Homo sapiens: one gene and its partner. The protein of the gene in region 2 interacts with the protein of the main gene of each other region in a pairwise test. Each region holds a gene or a part of one and is shown on either strand. Other genes may lie near its edges.

Region 1 (2,640 bases), on a different chromosome or scaffold from region 2:
TTACTACAGGAGCCAACTAGTAAGAATGGCCTCCTCTTAGACGGTACAGGAGAAGAATTTAGATATCTTTAAGTGTATCCAAATGTCTATACTCATGAAAAGGCATAAAAGATGAATACTTCACATTTAGTATATTTTTCAAATTTTGGACTGTAATTTATAATTGTCCAAACTATGCATGATTTGGGGGGCATGGAGGGTAGACATACAAAAATCTCTTCACTCAACAAATATTTTGGAGTTCTTACTATATGCCAGGCACTGTGATGATGCTAGCACACAGCCCACAAACTAATAGAAATTATGATTTAGCATGAAACCTAAGTAAGCAAATATAATCAAGTATAGGGTCTGTGATGTTACAGGACATGATGGGAGTAACAGTAATAGGATCTAAGTCACATTGGAGTGTCCTAATGTTTCCTAGTGGAAGTAATCACTGAATGCAGACTAAAAGATGAGCAAAAGGTAGATCCCATAAATCTCTGCATGTTTGTGAAAGGTCAATGTGAGGAAGTATAGTGTAGTGATCAAGAACTCAGGCTCAGGACTTCTGTTGCTGACCCAGAGGGTATAACAGGGACTGGAAAGGCTCTTTTGCCTCAATCAATCAATCAATCAATCAATCAATCAGGTAGATACTATATATATAAAGCAATGGTTTTCAACACCCTGGAAATCAGGCAACAAAGGATAGTGGTCCCTGGGGTGGGGTGGGGAAGAGTAAGCTCCATGATTACCCCAGTGTTATGGACTGAAGCTCTAATTCTAGTACCTCAGAAAGTGACTATATTTGCAGATAAGGCCTTTAAAGAGGTAATTAAGGTAAAATAAGGTCATGTGGGTGAGCCCTAATCCAATATGACTGGTGTCCTTATAAGAAGAGGAAATCTGGCCACAGAGAGGAAACCAGAAATGTGAGCAAGGAGGAAAAATCATCTGAGGACACAGCAGGAAGGTGGGCATCTGCAAGCCAAGGAGAGGGGCCTTAGAAGAAAGCAGCCTGCTGACACCTTGATCTTAGACTTCTAGCCTCTAGAATTGTGAGGAAACAAATTTCTGTTGTTTAAGCCACCTAGTCTTTGGAATTTTGTTATGGCATCTGTATTGGGCTGTTCTTGCATTGCTATAAAGAAATACCTGAGACTGGGTAATTTATAAAGAAAAGAGGTTTAATTGCCTCACAGTTCTGCAGGCTGTATAGGAAGCTGCTGCCAGCATCTTCTCAGATTCTGGGGAGGCCTCATGAAGTTTACAATCATGGCAGAAGGTGAGGTGGTAGCAGGCATGCCGCATGGCGTATGCAGGAGTGGTGGAGGTGGTGCTACACACTTCTAAACAACCAGATCTCCTGTGAACTCAGAGCAAGCACTCACTTATCACCAAAGGGATGGTCCAAGACATACATAAGGGATCCACCACTATGATCCAAATACCTTCCACCAGCCCCAACTCCAACACTGCGGATGACATTTCAACATGAGATTTGGGTGGGGACGAATATCTAAACTATATTAGTATCCCTCTAATATGCCAGCTTATTGCCTTAACAGAATTTCGAGGCCATGGTGAAGGGAGACATTACCTGGCTGACTCACTGAGTTAAAAGGATAGAGCTAAGAGTTCGAGAAAATGCAGCTAGAGTTCATAGACCAGAGTATCAGAGAAGAGAGTGGTGCATGGAAAGCTCTGGAGATATGCGGAGGGTGCCCCACACCAAGCAGAGTACTGACTGGCACATGCATGTGAGAAGACTACCAGAGACAGGGGAAAAAGCCATCGGGAAGGATTAAACAGTATCCAGCATTCTCATAGGGCCTACAATAGTACAGAATCCCATCAGGCAGACTGGAAAATCACTTAATTCATTATCTGCAAAATTTATCACCAGCAGAACACACTACAACCAATATTAAAAAAAAAAAAAAAAAAAAAAAACTCATCTGGCAGAAAAAAAAGAGACCAGATAGAAATATGGATCTATAAACAAATGACATAGTAACGACATGAGTACATATGATACATACTTTTCCTATTATTTAAATGTATTTAAAATCTAATGAATTAAAAATAGCAAAATCTTGCAGGGCTTATAATACATGTATAGGCAAAATGTATGACAAAAACAGCATAAAAGCCAGATGAAAGGGAATGAAAAAACACATTTGTAGGTTCTTATATATGAAGTATAATACTACCTGAAGGTAGACTATGATAAATTTAAGACACATACAGTAACCTAAAAATAACCACTAAAATAATAAAAGTTATACCTAATACAAAAGAGTTACATCTAATACACCACAAAGAGATGTAAAATGAAATCATGTAAAATTGTCTATCAATTCAAAAGAAGGCAAAAGAAGAAAATAGGAACAATGTACAGACAGAACAAATAAAACACAGCAAGATAAAAGACTCAAATATATCAATAATCCTACTCAAATGTCTACATGCTAAACACACCATTAAAAGATGCAGATTGCCAACTGAATAAAAAAACAAGACCTACCTATACTTTGTTTAAATTTCTTATAAATATTTTAAATATAAGGACAAATATAGTTAAAATTAAAAGGATTAAAAAATATATATATGGGCAGGCATGGTGGCTCATGCCTGTAATCCCAGCAGTTTGGG
Region 2 (3,500 bases):
AAACTATGGGATCTCTACCTCTTCTGTGCCATCAACTCCTTTGGTGGTCTGACAAGATTTATGGACCCTTTCTCAGAATGTTTTAAAATAAAGAAACAAACAGCATTACAAAGGATAGTGACTTTACTTACATAGTCAATAAAAAGCTGCATTATAGTCACATGTGCTTTTTCAATGCATTAGATAGCAAGTTCTAGTGGAGGACCTAGTAACAGCTATATCAGAAGGAGTGAGGAGTGTAAAGACTGTTTGCCATATCTGAAACAACTGCAATAGGTTATGAGAGTGTAGGATTGAAGATACAGAAAAAAGCCACAAGTGTTTCTAATACTACTATGATGTTAGTGTAGAAAATCCTTACTTAATGTCATCAATGGGTTCTTGGAAACTGTGACTTTAAATGAAACGTTATAATGGAACCAATTTTTTTTCTCATCAATGTTTTAAAGAAAGGATGTTATTCAAGGACCTGCTGTACCTCATTCTGCTTAAAGCCGAAGTTTCCAAGAACCTATCCTGATGTTAAGTGAGGACTTAACTGTATGAGATTCCCCAACTCCTAACTGATGGCAGTGCCAAGTTTCAGTTAGAAAATACCGAACCCCTGATTAGACTTTCTGGGTAGCCAGCTTGCAAGTTCATGAATATCCAAATGTCTCCTGAACGCCTTAAGAGCAGACTGGGAGAGAAATCCGTCTCTCCCTTTATCACTTATGCTCATGGCTTTCTTCCACTGACTCTGAAGAGAAAGGGAAAAGGAAAAACTCTAGGGTTTTTAAAGGACCTATACTTATTTAAAAACTTCTTGTTTTATTCTTACAGCCCAAATCATTAACCCTCGTGTTCTGAGTGATAGGGGGAAATGCTAAGGGGAGTCAGAGCCTGGTTATCAGCATTTTGGATGACCATATATTTTCTCCCCGTTTCACTATCTTTAAGATGGGAAAAGTAATTCCAGTGGGATTTATTGTGACCAGTTAAACACAGAATTCCTGGAGAAGTAATTAGATGACAGTTTTAAATTGTTATTTGTAATTCTGTTTTGGTAGTAAAGGCTGCAGAGGTGATGGTGAATAGGGTGGGTAGTTTCTGATAATGGGCTTGCCTTTGACCTAAATGTAGGTAGGCTGGGTGAGGTGGCTTGCACCTGTAATCCCAGCACTTTGGGAGGCTGAGGTGAGAGGATTGCTTGAGCTCGAGACCAGCTGGGCAACCCAGTGAGATCCCGTCTCTATAAAAAAAAAAAAATTAAAGCTGTAGGTAAATGACTAAGATAAGTCTCTTCTACAGGTATCTTTCCTGAGACTCACCGTCCACTCCTTCTCCAAAAGGTTGGTACTTCACTGATAGACCTTTAGTTTTAGGATTTGTACTGACGTAAATAATGCTGGGACCTTTTAAGGGCCATAGCTCCTGTAACTGGCAGTAGTTAAATCCTCTTCCTTGTGAATTTCTATTAATGAAGTTACTTTTTCCCTTCTTAGGCAACTAAAGCAGAGGCAGTGGCCCCTACGTAAACCCAAAACCAATCCTAAGAATAAGAGATCAACAAATATTTGGAGAAATTACAGCTATGGAAAGATCTGTGTCACAAGCTTGATGTTTGAACAAATTAGGATCCTACTCTAAACTTGAATATATCAGAGTTAAAGTTTTAGGGATTTAGTGAATTGTAGAAAAGTAATCTTAGATGGAATTAGAAATAGATTTGTCTTCCTTGAGAGAAGAATGCGGGTAGGCAAAACAAAATGCCAAGTACCAAACCATTCAGTAGCAGGAGATTTGGCTAAAGATTTAGTTCCTAGTATAAAACCTTTTGCCCCGGTGAGGATCTTCCTCTGGGTTCTTGAGCTTTACCTCCACTTATTCCCCTCCAGCTACTCAAAGATGGAGGTGTGCTGTCACCCATCCTCACACGACTGATGAACTTCTTTGTATTCTCTCGAGGGTAAGTGTCACTGTCAAAGATTGTGGCCTAGAGCAATGTCGTGAAAAGTTGCTGCCATTACAATTCTGGGCCAAATCCTAAGGCTTGATATTTTAAAGCAAAGGTGTTGGCCGCTTGCCAGGGAAGTAGAAGGAATTCATAAATCACTTATGGGTCAGACTGCATGGCCCAGACTGCATGGCCTCTGAGGTTCCAGCCATATTGAACATTCTGAGTTCTCCTCACACTTATCTTCCTGCGTTTTGGACTCTTTCAGTCTCACCCCAGTCTTTGGGCCGTATACTCGGCCCTCTGAGAGTGAGCTGTGGGACATGTGGGCAGGGATCCGCAACAATGACGGGAACTTAGTCATTGACAGGTAAGAAGTTACCCTTTGCTTTGGTTTCCAGAGACGTGTTTTTGTGGAGAGTGGGGATTGCTTGTTCTGTTCCTTGCTGGCTTATTCCCTATCACAGGAAGGCTGATGATGACCTATGGGGCAAACCAAAAAGTCATGGTCTATATGAAGAAAGAAATAGAAAATAAGAGTGAAACTGGACTCTTTGTTAGTATTAAATGCTTCAAAGTATTGAATCATGGTTGTGAAAGTAGCCTAGTGCCTCCCTCAAGGTACAAGGCTCTTCCTTTTGCCTATCTTTCTGCAGCAACGGGGAGTGAGAGGGCAGACTTCTCTTTCTCTGTCTTGTACAAAGAATTCCCATGCCTTGGTTCAAATGAGAATGTAGACACTTTCACAAGGGACCCAGAGGTGGTGATAGCTGTAACTACTTGGGATAAGACTCTGACTTCTAGCCACCTGGCTCAGTGTAGCTTCCAGTGTTTTTACTGATGGCTTTGCTGGGGATTGTATGTTAGAGGGAGCCAATCCTCCCACCCTCTCCTAAGCCCCAACAGGATCCCTGAATATTTCATTTTAGTATTAAAAAACTGAAGAACAATTAAGACTGTCTTTTAAAATTATATTTTCCTTTCCAAAAAGTAAATACTATTTGTAAGATGAGATATTTGAGGTTCACAAAAATAACTGTCCTGGAGTTGCCAGGCAGAATGAGTAGAATACATGAGTTTGAGTTCTAAAATGTGGCAGTGGTGTCTTACGCTGGAGAAAGAGGAATCCTCTCCATTTTATCTGTGGTCAGATGAAGCTTTGTGCTCATCAACATCTACACTTAGAATTTTGAAGTAGATGTCGGCTGGGCACAGTGGCTCACGCCTGTAATTTGAGCACTTTGGGAGGCCAAGGTGGGCGAATCATATGAGGTCAGGAGTTTAGAGACCAGCCTGGCCAACATGATGAAACCCCGTGTCTACTAAAAATACAAAAATTAGCCAGTAATTCCAGCTACTCAGGAGGCTGAGGCACAAGAATTGCTTGAGCCCAGGAAGCGGAGGTTGCAGTGAACTGAGATCATGCCACTGCACTTCAGCCTGGGCACAGAGTGAGACTCCGTCTCAAAAAAAAAAAAAGAAAAAAAAAAAGAAGTAGATGTCAACACAGAAGATCATGTGTTACAATCCTCTTATTTTAAAAATGAGGAGGCTAGCCAGGTCC

What was found.
Region 1: the proteins of MEST (region 2) and SNX7 interact in a two-hybrid assay, tested with the Homo sapiens proteins (one large-scale study listed by IntAct).

The regions. Positions count from the first base shown.
Region 1 is NC_000001.11:98,755,721-98,758,360, reverse strand, and holds part of SNX7 (sorting nexin-7), read right to left. Parts: intron 1-2,640. UniProt on the Homo sapiens protein: Involved in the regulation of endocytosis and in several stages of intracellular trafficking. Together with SNX4, involved in autophagosome assembly by regulating trafficking and recycling of phospholipid scramblase ATG9A.
Region 2 is NC_000007.14:130,498,585-130,502,084, forward strand, and holds part of MEST (mesoderm-specific transcript homolog protein), read left to right. Parts: intron 1-1,290; coding exon 1,291-1,331; intron 1,332-1,877; coding exon 1,878-1,948; intron 1,949-2,204; coding exon 2,205-2,306; intron 2,307-3,500.